Linked DNA regions of Homo sapiens. The protein of the gene in region 2 purifies or fractionates together with the protein of the main gene of each other region. This does not show direct contact. Each region holds a gene or a part of one and is shown on either strand. Other genes may lie near its edges.

Evidence for each region.
Region 1: the proteins of SAV1 (region 2) and LATS2 purify together in Homo sapiens (affinity purification with western blotting; 4 studies listed by BioGRID, with this or other methods). This does not show direct contact.

Annotation. Positions count from the first base shown.
Region 1 is NC_000013.11:20,981,587-20,988,614, forward strand, and holds part of LATS2 (serine/threonine-protein kinase LATS2), read right to left. Parts: coding exon 6,295-7,028; intron 2,221-6,294; coding exon 1,638-2,220; intron 63-1,637; coding exon 1-62. UniProt on the Homo sapiens protein: Negative regulator of YAP1 in the Hippo signaling pathway that plays a pivotal role in organ size control and tumor suppression by restricting proliferation and promoting apoptosis.
Region 2 is NC_000014.9:50,637,294-50,644,321, forward strand, and holds part of SAV1 (protein salvador homolog 1), read right to left. Parts: intron 3,601-7,028; coding exon 3,457-3,600; intron 1-3,456. UniProt on the Homo sapiens protein: Regulator of STK3/MST2 and STK4/MST1 in the Hippo signaling pathway which plays a pivotal role in organ size control and tumor suppression by restricting proliferation and promoting apoptosis.

The DNA of each region.
Region 1 (7,028 bases), on a different chromosome or scaffold from region 2:
ACAGTTAGACACATCATCCCAGAGGTCGCTGGGCTCCATGCTGTCCTGTCTGACATGGCTCCCTTCACCCAGGAATCAGGGATAGTGAAAGAAAAGAACAAAATATAAAGTGAATTTTCACTCTTCAATAACTCAACAGATCCACAGCTTAAAACAGCAAAGTCATTCCAATCAGCTCCTGACATATCAGGACAGAGAATCCCCGCTGAGCTGCTCCATAGGGGCAGCCTGCTGTTCCTAGTTTGGAGACACACGTGGTGAGGTTGGCGCTAGCACCAAGGTAGAAATGACGGTGAAGAATCACAGGACACCATGCACCGTGCTGAGCTGGCAGGAAGGCACTGCAGGCAGGAGAGGCTGGAAGAACTGCGGGGACAGCACTCCTAGCGCTTAGGCCATAATCAAAAGGTAACAACTGCCTGACACATGTTTTAAGATGAGCATGGAAAACTTAGGAGGATTTAAACAACATGAACAAAGGTTACTTCAATGCCAGAAAATGAGAATGAATTAAATGATTTAGAGTTAGTTTTGAGTTAGAGAAAAAAGACTAAGTGATGATATTAAAATAACTACTTCAAGAATCTCAGCCATAAAGAAGATAATAATCAGCTGTTTTTGGCTTTTCCAAATGGCAGAACTATAGGAAATGGAGTTCAATGATACACTACATAGATGCAGGTTGGCTATAAGAGAGGGCTCCTTGGGAGGCTGTGACTCTTTTATTTATTTTATTTTATTTGAGACAGAGTTTCGCTCTTGTTGCCCAGGCTGGGGCGCAATGGCGCGATCTCAGCTCACCGCAACCTCTGCTTCCCGGGTTCAAGCGATTCTCATGCCTCAGCCTCCCAGTAGCTGGGATTACTGGCATGCATCACCACGCCCGGCTAATTTTGTTATTTTTAGTAGAGACGGGGTTTCTCCACGTTGGTCAGGCTGGTCTCGAACTCCTGACCCCAGGTGATCCGCCCACCTTGGGCTTTCAAAGTGCTAGGATTACAGGCGTGAGCCACCATGCCCAGCCAAATCTTTTATTTTTTAAGGCTTGCTTTAATGAGGCAGGTGATGGTTCCCCACAAAGGCCCCGTGACACCTTGTAGCCTACTGTCTTAAAAATATAGTAGGCCAGGCACGGTGGCTCACACCTGTAATCCCAGCACTTTGGGAGGCGGAGGCAGGCGGATCACCTGAGGTTGGGAGTTTGAGACCAGCCTGACCAACACGGAGAAACCCCGTCTCTACTAAAAATACAAAATTAGCCAGAGGTGGTGGTGCGTGACTGTAATCCCGGCTACTCGGGAGGCTGGAGGCAGGAGAATCACTTGAACCCAGGAGGCAGAGGTTGCAGTGAGCCGAGATCACGCCATTGCACTCCAGCCTGGGCAACAAGAGCGAAACTCTGTCTCAAAAAAAAAAAAAAAAAAAAGTAAACCTGAAATCCACTACCTTAAAAAAAAATGCATATCACACTATTCCTTTTGGAAGGGAAGGATGTCACACCAATTTATAAAATAATGGAGTGACAGATAAAAATTTCAAAATGATTAGGAGCCACTAGGATGGGAAATTTAGTTGCTTGCAATGGGGTTAGTGACATCTACACATAGAAAGTGCATGTGGCACACTTCAGACAATACCTTTCTGGTAATATTTGGAATTGTGAGTCCACCTGAACCCAGTGCAGAGGCCGAAATCTGTGAGTTTAATGTGACCATCCAGATCTATCAAAATGTTATCAGGCTTGATGTCTCGGTGGATGAAGCCCATCTTGTGGACACTCTCAATGGCCAAAGTCAGCTCTGCGATGTAGAACCGGGCCAGGTGCTCAGGGAAGACCTCCATCCGGATCAGCAGGCTCATCATGTCCCCACCAGGGATGTAGTCCATCACAAAGTACAGGCTGTCTTTGTCTTGGAAGGAGTAGTAGAGTTTGACCACCCACTCATTGTCTGCCTCGGCCAGGATGTCCCTCTCGGCCTTGACGTGGGCCACCTGATTCCGGTTCAGGACATCCTTTTTCCTTAGGGTCTTCATGGCGTACAGGGCGTGAGTGTCCACCTTACAAGCAAGGCACACTTCTCCAAAGGCACCGATCCCCAGGGTTTTGATCTTGACAAACATAGACTTGTCCATCTTGGCCCTCTTTAACCTGTTGTAATTAGACTCTTTCTGGTAGAGGATCTTCCGCATCTGCTCCTGCTCAGCTTCACAGAGTCCAGCCTGTGTAGAAGGAAAAGGAAGGAGGAAGAATCACATTAGAGAAGTCCCATGATAACAAATGACTGGGATGGGGATGCCCTGGAACTGAGAGGAACCTAGCTCATTTTACAGAAAGGAGAACAGAGAAGAATGGGTCTCATATACTACAGAGTCTCGCTCTGTCGCCTAGGCTGGAGTGCAGTGGCACAATCTCAGCTCACTGCAGCCTCCGCCTCCTGGGTTCCAGCGATTCTGCTGTCTCAGCCTCCCGAGTAGCTGGGACTACATGTGCCCGCCACCATGACACCTGGCTAATTTTTGTATTTTTAGTAGAAACAGCGTTTCATCATGTTGGCCAGGCTGGTCTTGAACTCCTGACCTCAGGTGATCTGCCCACCTTGGCCTCCCAAAGTGCAGGGATTACAGGCTTGAGCCACTGTGCCCGGCCAGTTTTGTTTTTTTATATCCATATATAGACATGAATATGGAATGAAAAGTTAAGATAAAAAAGAAAGTTCTTTCTCTAGGATACTTTTGGCTCTAAAAACTAAGGGAAACTTCTATTAACACAAATCTGTGGAAAAGGGGACCACAGCATTCCTAGAACTCCAAGAGCCATCTAATCTTTCAGTAACTCAGGGAAAATGGGAAAGCAGGAAGAAAAGTCAACAATCAGCATACAAAAATCAGTAGCATACATTAGATAGACTTGTATATGGTGAGAGATAGGGTCTAGTTTCATTCTTCTGCATATGGATATCTGGATTTCTGTACACCAATAATGAATGCCATTTACAACAGCTATAAAAAAAATCTAGGAGTAAATTTAACCAAAAAGTGAAAGAGCTCTACAAAGAAAACTACAAAACACTGAAGAAAGAAACTAAAGAGGACACAAACAAATGAAAAGAGATCCCATGTTCACCGACAGAAAGATTTAATATTGTTAAAATGACCATACTACCCAAATCAATCTACCAATTAAATGCAATCCCTATCAAAATACCAATGATATTTTTCACATTACTAGAAAAAACAATACTAAAATTCACAGGGAGCCCAAATACTCAAAGCAATCCTAGGCAAAAAGAACAAAATTGTTACCTGACTTCAAAATATGTTACAAGCCTAGAGTAACTGAAACTGCATGGTATTGGTATAAAAACAGACACATAGACCAATGGAACAGAATAGAGAACCCAGAAATAAGTCCACGTATTTACAGCCACCTGATTTTTGACAACGGTGCCAAGAATGTACACTGAAAAAGAGACATGCTGGGAAAACTAGATATCCATATGCAGAAGAATGAAACTAGACCCCAATCTCTCACCATATAGGAATGTCAACTTAAAACAGATTAAAGACCTAGAAATAAGACCAGAGGCTATGAAAATATACTCCAGGACATTGGTTTGAGCAAAGATTTTTATGGCTAAAATCTCAAAAGCACAGGCAAAAAAACCCCAAAGTAGACAAATGGGACTATATTAAGCTAAAAAGCTTCTGCAGAGCAAAGGAAACAACAGAGTAAAGAGGATACCTGTGTTGAACAGGAGAAAATATTCACAAACTATTCATCTGACAAAAGACTATTATTCAGAATATACAAGGAACTCAACTCAACAGCAAAAAAAATATCAAATAATCCCATTAAAAAGTAAGCCAAAAGGCCAGATATGGTGGCTCACGCCTGTAATCCCAGCACTTTGGGAGGCTGAGGCAGGCGGATTACTTGAGGTCAGGAGTTTGAGACCAGCCTGACTAACATGGTGAAACCCCGTCTCTACTAAACATACAAAAATTAGCTGAGCATGGTGTCGCACACCTGTAGTCCCAGCTCTCAGGAGGCTGAGGCAGGAGAATAGCTTGAATCCAGAAGGCAGAGGTTGCAGTGAGCCGAGATTTCACCACTGCACTCCAGCCTGGGCAATAGAGCAAGACTCCGTCTTAATTAAAAAATAAATAAATAAAATAAGGCCAGGCGCGGTGGCTCACACCTGTAATCCCAGCACCCTGGGAGGCTGAGACAGGTGGATCATCTGAGGTCGGAAGTTTGAGACCAGCCTGAACAACATGGTGAAACCCTGTCTCTACAAAAACATAAAACTAGCTGGGCGTGGTGGTGCATGCCTGTAATCCCAGCTGCTCGGTAGGCTGAGGCAGGAGAATCACTTGAACCCGGGAGGCGGAGGTTGTGGTGAGCTGAGATCGTGCCATTGCACTCCAGCCTGGGCAACAAGAGCGAAACTCTGTCTCAAAAAGAAAAAAAAGTGAGCTAATGACCTGAATAGACACTTGTCAAAAGAAGATACACAAATGGCTAAGAGGTGCATGGAAAGATGCTCATTAACCATCAGGGAAATGCAAATGAAAACCACAATGAGATATAATCTCTCCCCAGTTAGAACGACTATTATCAAAAAGGAAAAAAAAGAAACTAAAAATAGAACTACCATACAATCTACCAAACCCATTATTGGGTATTTATCTAAAGGAAAGGAAATCAGTATATCAAAGGGATACCTGCACCCCATGTTTATTGCAGCACTATTCACAACAGTAAAAACATGGAATCAACTGAAGTGTCCATCAACTGATGAACAGATAAAGAAAATGTGGTCTGTGTACACCATGGGATACTATTCAGCCATAAAAAAGAATGAAATCCTGTCATTTGGAGCAACATGAATGGAACTGGAGGTCATTATGTTAAGTGAAATAAGCCAGGAACAGAAGTTCGGTTAGAACACCACACACTGTTACTGATATGTGGGAGCTAAAATAATTGATCTCATAGAGGTAGAGAGTAGAATGATAGTTACCAGAGGTGGGAAAGGGTGTGTGTGTGTTGAGGGGAGATGAGAAGTTAATTGGTGCAAACATACAGCTGGATAGAAGGAACAAACTCTAACTAGTATGACTATGGTTAGTAAAAATGTATTCAATATTTCAAAATAGCTAGAAGAGAGGTCTTGAAATGCTTCCAACACAGAAATGATAAATACACCAGGCAATGGATACTCTAAATACCTTGACTTGATCATTACATATCCTATGCATGTAACAAAATATCACATGTTCCCCACAAATCTACAAATACTATGTATAAATAAAAAATAAACGGCTGGGTGTGGTGGCTCACACGTGTAATTCCAGCACTTGGGGAGGCCGAGGTGGGCAGATCACCTGAGGTCAAGAGTTCGAGACCAGTCTGACCAACATGGCGAAACCCCCGTCTCTACTAAAAACACAAAAAAATGGCCAGGCGTGGTGGTAGGCACCTGTAACCCCAACTACTCGGGAAGCTGAGGCAGGAGAATCGCTTGAACCCAGGAGGCAGAGGTTGCAGCGAGCCAAGATCGCGCCATTGCGCTCCAGCCTGGGTGACAGAGCAAGACTCCGTCTAAAAATAAATTAAAAAATAAAAAATAAAAATAAAAAAAACACAAATGAAAAGTATATCTGTAAAAAAATCAGTGAATACGGGACACTGAAAAGAACACAAATCTGGTTTTCAGGCTTTGGAATTATTGGCTTTGTGTGATTTAAATCTGTTACATTTTAATTTAAATAGTTTCATCAATAATTACCTTCTTCAGCACTTCAGTGTCAACTAAGGTATATTTAAATCATTAGTTACTAACTAAACACTTAAAAGAATAAATGGAATCACTACTAGATACATTTTTCTTCCAAAATCCCACAATCTCAATTTACAAAACCTTAAACTTTGTTTCTACTCATTCAAATGTTCTATTATTAATCCATGATGAATTTTGTTAAGCGAGGACATACCCTAAAACTTAATTTGCTAATTTACCTACAATGTAAATTGTAGATTACCTACATTACGCTGGCTACATTATGCACAGCTATCTCTGATTCTTCAGAAGAGTCAAGGGGAAAGGCGAAAGGGAGGTCACACCATTTGCAACTTCTCCAAGTTGTTGGCCCCAGAACCAGACTGTCGCCCATTAGCCGTTTTGATGATAAGGGGTATACAGTCGAAACAGAAAAGGGATTGTGCGTGCTTCCTATTGCCAGTAGAGGGATGAGCCGGGAACAAATAGTAAAAATGAAGTGTGAAATTACTTTGGCCATTTCTTGCTCCAGCTGCAGCCTCCGGTTAACCTTCTGCTGGTAGGTTTTGATGACATTCTCCACGTGCTGCTCCATGAAGAACTTAAAGGCGTATGGCGAGTAGCTCTTGATGCGTGACTCTCTCTTCTCTTCGTCTCTGCTGTTTTTGCGGACGGGAACGGGAGAGGTCTGAATCTGCTTTTTATCCTTTCCGCCTTTGTCCCCCTTGGCGCTTTTGCGGCTCTTGTCGCCGCCCTCGGGCTCGTTGGGGCCCGCACGGAGGCTCTGCTCCATGCCTGCGCACAGGCTGTCCAGGTCGTACTGCTCCGACTTGCTGCGCAGCAGCAGGTGCTTCGGGTAGGGCGGAGGCGGGCACCTCCGGTCTGGGCCTCCGTACTCCACGTCCAGCGGGAAGGCGCCTGCGCCGCCCAGCGCCAGGGCATGCTCCTCCTTGGCGTCCAAGCCCTCCGCAGCCGGGGCGGGGGCGGGGGCGGGGGCCGGGGCAGGCGCGGGCACCCAGGCGGGGTGCGAGGGCCCCACAGCCGTCTGCGGCTCCGGCCTCAGCACACGCACGCTCTTCACCGGGTGCAAGATGTGCGCGGCCGTGACAGCCGTCACGGTGTTGGGGGCGGGCAGGGAGGGCTCGGCCTTGCCAGGCGGACCGGGCCGCGGCTGGTGGCTGTTGAAGGAGTTGGTCCTGCTGGGCACTGGGCAGTCAGGCCGGAAGGCCACGTGCGCGCGCGGCG
Region 2 (7,028 bases):
GAAATACTCAATGAGCCTCCATGAAGAAACAGTTATAAGGTATTTCTTAGAACATCCACCATTCTTGTAACTTAAGATTTTATGTGCTCCTTGGAAACAAATTCATAATTCCTAACAAAAAATCTTAATCTCCCAGAGTTAGCTAAGAGGCAATTCAGCAATGTCTACTAAGTCAAGATGGTTACCATTTATACCAGGTGAACTACAACAATGTTAAACTAATCTATCATCTGTGTACTTTCTAGCAAGGAAAACAAAGAACAAAAATAAGATGGTAAATATTATACTTATTTTTAAGACACGAATATCATTCTGTATAAGTATTCAAGTTTTGTCTAAAGGAAGAAAAAATCTTCAAACAATTTTGTCAGTTTTTTTTTTTTTTTTTTTTTTTTTAAGAGATGAAGATCTCCTATGTCTCCCAGGCTGAAGTGCAGTGGCTAATCACAAGCACAATGCCACTACTGATCGGCACAGTAGTATTAACCTGCTCCCTTTCCAACCTGGGCCAGTTCGCCCCTCCTTAGGCAACCTGGTGGTCCCTGCTCCTGGGAGGTCACCATACTGATGCCAAAGAGTACAGACATCCGACTGGCATAGTGCATCACAGCCCAGAACTCCTAAGCTCTAACAATCCTGACTCTGCCTCTCAAGTAGCTTGGATTACAGGTGCACCACCATGCCTGGCCAAGTTTCTGACTTGCCAATCAGCATTCAGCATCAAGAGTACGATTATGGGTAGAAGCAACAAAATCAGATTAGAGAAAATCCTTCTGGGGGAAGAAAGTGCACTCCAAGAAGGGCACAGATGTGAAAAAACTGCAAAGCATGGAATGGAAATCCTATTCCAAATTCTTTCCTCTGTTGCTTCTACATAGTTACTACCCTTCTGCCTATAATCACCTAAGTGTTCCTTCTTTTTCTGAAAAGTATAAACTCCCATTCTTTCCTTCTTAACTAGCCAAGAAATTTGCTTCCACAAGTTTAACTTTTAGTCATTTATACTGTATATACACAGGTAAATCATTCCGAAAATTGGGTGTAAAACACTCCAGTAGTCCATGCTTCTAGCATCTCTTTCACTCTGTTTTTCCTAGGGCAGTATTCTATTCAAATACTACTTATAAATAAGCCATATATACAAATGCCAGTTGCTATAATGCTACCAAAAATAACCTGTCCACACTGCATGCTGACTTCAAGATCAACAGTGCTGCTATCCTCAGCTCCAGGTATCACCATGTAGCCTAAGTCCCCTGCACCCACCCGCCATAACACTGTGTCCACTCCTCCCTCTTTTTCACCTGTATCCAGAGCAGGGTCAATGGTGACACTGCAGGACTGCCAAGCCACTGGAATAAAAAATACCCCTGCCACACACTGCTGAGGACTAGTGTTTTGGTGTGTGTGTGAGAAATAACAGAAAGTAAATATGTTCTTGACAATGTTTTTGCTGTCAAAGATTAAATTTTATTTTATTATATTTTATTTTGAGATGGAGTCTCGCTCTGTCACCCAGGCTGGAGTGCAATGGCGCAATCTTGGCTCACTGCAACCTCCGCCTCCCGGGTTCAAATGATTCTCCTGCCTCAGCCTCCCGAGTAGCTGGGACTACAGGCGCGTGCCACCATACCCAGCTAATTTTTTGTATTTTTAGTAGATACAGAGTTTCACTGTGTTAGCCAGGATGGTCTCGATCTCTCGACCTTGTGATCCACTCGCCTCAGCCTCCCAAAGGGCTGGGATTACAGGCATGAGCCGCCGCACCCGGCCTAACTTTTAAAATTTTATCCTATAGTTCAGCTTGAGTACAGTTATACCAAGCATTATAGACTTTTGTGAGCAGACACAGGAACATAACTTTACAAAAATTAAATACAAATTTAAAACACAGTCTGTTTCTAAATCAAGTTTTAGAAGTATATGCAAAAATTGTGTTGGTAAATTACTGTGAGAGATAGGATTAAAGAATTTCAGGATTAAAGAATTTCAGATTCTCAATTGTCTGAAAAACAAAAGGAAGAAACATGCAAATTTTTTTTGCAAAAATGTCTCTTTTTGTTGTGATAATTGATTCTCATTATCTAATTCATAGATAACCACTCACCCTTTGTTGATAGAATATTAACCATTTCCATCCTCTTCAGCAACATTAATTAGAATCAACTAGAAAGCAACAGGCTTCCAGACCTCTTGTTTAAGTTTTTAAGCAGTAAAGAAGTATAGTACTTGCTCCCTTTTTGTCAGTCTGGCCCATTTTGGAAGAATTACAACCTATTTGCTAGTTTCCTTGAGTTTTATAGTTAGCTCACAGAACCACAGAATTCAAAAAGACTATAATCTTCAGGAATCTGTTTCTTTCTGTAAGAAACCAGGAATTCCATTTAAGTACTATCTCTTCCCCCAAAAAGGAAAGATTATGCTATTTCTTATTAAACATGACTATAGAGTAGAAATAACATACAACAGAAAGAATAACTCTCCTCAACCATATCCACCCCCAGAAATACTAAGGTTAACAGTTAGGCACATATTCTTCCAGATTTAAGGAAAATAAAAACGCATACAGATATTATGTACTATTTAGAATCAGCATACAAACATACAGCTGTAGGTCAGGTGGTATCAAGGGACAAAGAAAAGAGGAAAATAGGAAAGAAAATGCCATCTGCTATCATTCCTTTTTCTGGCACTAGTAGGGGGGCAGTCAGGGTCTCTCATGCTCTGTCACCCAGGCTGGAGTGCAGTGGCACAAGCATAGCTCACTGCGGCCTCAAACTCCTGGGCTCAAGCAGTCCTCCCACCTTAGCCTCCCAAGTAGCTGAGATCACAGGCATACACCACAGCATGCTGCTAATTTTTAAATTTTTTATAGAGACAGAGTCCTGCTATGTTGCTCAGGCTGAACTTGAACTCCTCAGATCAAGCTATCCTCCCACCTCAGCCTCCCAAGTACTTGGGACTACAGACCATGCAAAAAGCCTGGCTAATTTTTAAAATTTTTCTGTGGAAATGGGGCTCTCGTTATGTTGCCTAGACTGGTCTCGAACTCCTGGACTTAAGAGATCCTCCTGCCTCAGCCTCCCGAAGTGCTGGGATTACAGGTGTGAGCCACTGTGCCAAGCCCAGGTCCTTACTTTTATCACAAGTACTGTATCACTTATTTACAAATTAATCTTCTCCTATGAGAATGTAAGTTTCTTACTTGTATCCCTAATAGCAGAGGCCCGCACACAAAGAAATGAAGATTCTATAAATGTCTGAAGAACTAATATTTCTAATTAATGATTTTCACACATTATAAACTATGACATCCTTTATTCAAGTCACGTATTACTTAGAAGCCGAATATTATTAAGAGTAAAATATGGCACACTACTTGGATCGAGCAGCCCAGAGACTCCATTCAGCCCTTCACTCACTCCTCAAACAAATTTGTGTTGTAAATGTACTTACTTCACAGGGGCTCGTGCGTAAACCTGAAGCCAGTCAGGAATTTCTGCAGTATGATATGGATTTGCAGGTACCAGAAGGGACTGATTTCTTTCAGTTTGCTGTGGCTGGTATGTGACAGGAGGTGGTTGATCATACCGAGGTACACTAAGAAGAAAGGAGTGACATTCTTTAGGATAAAGGTCTTAAAATCTAAACAAGAAATTATAAAGAACAAATAATACTTAAGCATTTTTCAGTGTGCCTTCTGTCCAAACTGACTTACACCACCTGAAAGGTAATGTATTTTTAAGATATTTCTTCTGGCTGGTATTTAGTCTTTTCAAAAACAGGTTCAAAGGAGGATATGAAAAAGCTGGAACTAAGTTTTAACCTTTATACAAAGGCTTAAAACTAGAATAGTAAATTCCCACAAGAAATAGTCATCAGCTGTAAATTCATATCAGAAAGGTTGACAGTTTCTAAGAAAGGATGTTTCCTTCCTCCCGTAGGCTGAAAATGGGGGTTAGGATATGTAGTGACGCAGCAGTGAGTATTGTGTTTGAAATATCTCTATCCAATGCAGATAACTTTTCAACTTTTACCAACTCAAGAGAACATATGGGAGTCAGAGTTGATCAGAACCTATTTTAAGTCACAGAGATTAAAAAAAAAAAAGACCATACTTTAGTTCTAATAGCCTGTGTATGCTGTGGGGAGTGGAGATATTATATGGGAAAGTGTAAGGAAAGCACTGAACCACCTGAAGGTTAATAGCTGAACTCGAAGCGGCCAAAAGGGTCTATTTGAGACCAAAAGGGGTCTGCACCTTCAAACATAAAGATTTATGTGTATATGTGGCCAACAAGCATATGAGAAAATGCTCAACATCACTGCTTATTAGAGAAATGCAAATCAAAAGCACAATGAAATAAATACCATTCCACATCAATCAGAATGGCTATTATTAAAAAGTCAAAAAATAACAGATGCTGGTATGGTTGCAAAGAAAAATGAATGCTTATACACTGCTGGTGGGAACATAAATTAGTTCAGTCACAGTGGAAAGCAGTTGGGAGACTTCTCAAAGAACTTAGAACTATCATTCAATCCAGCAGTCCCATTAATGGGACTATTTCTACAAAGGAATAGAAATCATTCTACCATAAAGAAACACGTGTGCACATGTTAATTGCAGCACTATTCACAATAGCAAAGATACGGTATCAACCTAAATGCCCATCAATGGTGGGCTGGATAAAGAAAATGTGGTATGCAGACACCATGGAATACTACCCAGCCATAAAAAAGAACAAGAGCATGTAGTCTGCAGCAACACTGATGGAACTGGAGGCCATTATCCTAAGTGAATTAATGCAGGAAGAGAAAACTAATACCACATGTTGATAGGTAGGAGCTAAACACTGAGTACACATGGACACAAAGAAGGGAACAATAAACATTGAGGCCTACTTGCGGGCAGAGGATGGGAGAAGCATGAGGATTGAAAACTACCTATCAGGGACCGGGCGTGATGGCTCACACCTGAGGTCGGGAGTTCGAGACCAGCCTGGCCAACATGCAGAAACCCCGTCTCTACTAAAAATACAAAACTTAACCAGGCTTCATGATGCATGCCTGTAATCCCAGCTACTTGGAAGGCTGAGGCAGGAGAATTGCTTGAACCTGGGAGGCGAAGGTTGAGGTGAGCTGAGATCGCGCCACTGCACTCCAGCCTTGGCAACAAAAGTGAAACTCCGTCTCAGAAAAAAAAAAAAAAAGAAAAGAAAAACTACCTATCAGACACTATGCTTATTACCCGGGTGATAATCTGTACCAAATCCCCAAGCCATGCAATTTACCCATGTAACAAACCTGCACATGTACCCCTGAACCTAAAATAAAAGTTAGGGAGAAAAAAAAGAAAATGTGGTGTATATATAACAATGGGGAGAAAAAAATGCATGTGTATATTAGAAAAGGTCACTGTTTACTAAACTGGGATTAAAATAAGGTTAGATTATGCTGTGGTTAACAATTTTAAAAGATCAATATGCAAATGGAACTGAATTCTATCTTCAACTCTTCTTTCCTAAATAGGTTCAAAGGAAAATGTTCTTTGATAGTACAACTGGGGGTGAAGAAGAATTGGGACTTTGAAGTCAGGTACGCCTGGATTTGAACCACAGCTTTAACACTTACAAACTATGTAAATGTAAGCAAAACTCCTCCTATCCCTAAGCCTCAGCCTCCATACTTGTAAAAGTGGAATAATAAATTCATACCACAGGTGGTTGTTCTCAGGATTAAATGACCTAATGTAAGTCAAGAATTTTGTATAAGGATTGGCCTAAGATAGACAACCAGACAACTAGTAATACTACATATGTGAGCTTAAGGGCAGCGTTTATTCTCTCTTGTTCAACTTCTACCAAGTTGCTGAGAGAAGTAAATTAACTAATTATGAAATTGCTTTTAAAAAACTATTAAAATTCTGTAATAACATAAGGTTAATGATGATTGTATTAGTCTATTTTCACAATGTTATAAAGAATTACCTGAAACTGGGTAATTTATAAAGAAAAGAGGTTTAATTGACCCACAGTTCCATAATTGGGAGGCCTCAGGAAACTTAAATCATGGCAGAAGATGAAGGGGAAGCAAGGCACATCTTACGTGGTGGCAGGAGAGAGAAAGAAGGGGGAACTGCCACACACTTTTAAACTATCAGATCTCATGAGAACTCACTACCAGAACAACATGGGGGAAATGGCCCCCATGATTCAATCACTTCCCACCAGGTCCCTCCCTTGATACATGGGGATTACGATTTGAGATGAGATTTGGGTGAGGACACAGAGCCAAACCATGTCAACGAACAGAAAAGTAAACTCTCAAATCTGGTTATCTGGACTGCAACAATCATTGCCACCTGATGACCACACCACAGGTTTGATTCTTTCAAAGGACAACAACCTCAGTAGTTGAATAAACACTGATTGGGTGCCACTACATGGAATCATGGGAAAAAACAGATTTTCAAAGTTGAATTAATAAATCCAAATACATAAAATAATTAAAACAACACAATAATGATAAAGCTTAGTTTTCCAGTTGATAATCCTAAAACACATTTTCATAACTATTTTAATGGTTCTAAGAAAATACAAATGTCCACTATAACCAAAAAACTGTATTATGCCAGATGACACTAAGCAACATTTATCAAAATGCAGATGATATTTTACTCATTTTTAATCTTGTGGCTCAGCTTTTGAAGCTCAAATGTGGTTAATTTGAAATATTTGCAACTTCATTACTAAACTAATACTAGCTTTTATGTACTTTGAAATCCAGTGTGTATTTACACTTACAGCACATCTCAATTTATATTAATCACATTCAAGGGCTCAACAGCCACACGTGACAACTGGCTATCAGGCAGCACAGGGCTAAAAGTCTGGCAACAAAGCAGATCTACCCAGCCCAGTATCAATCAAAACAGCACAAAGAATTACTGGCTATATTTATTAAACAGAAATGGGATGTTTTGTTCAGTCCCAATTTTCACTTTCTTGTCTAGTAATAGCAAGAAA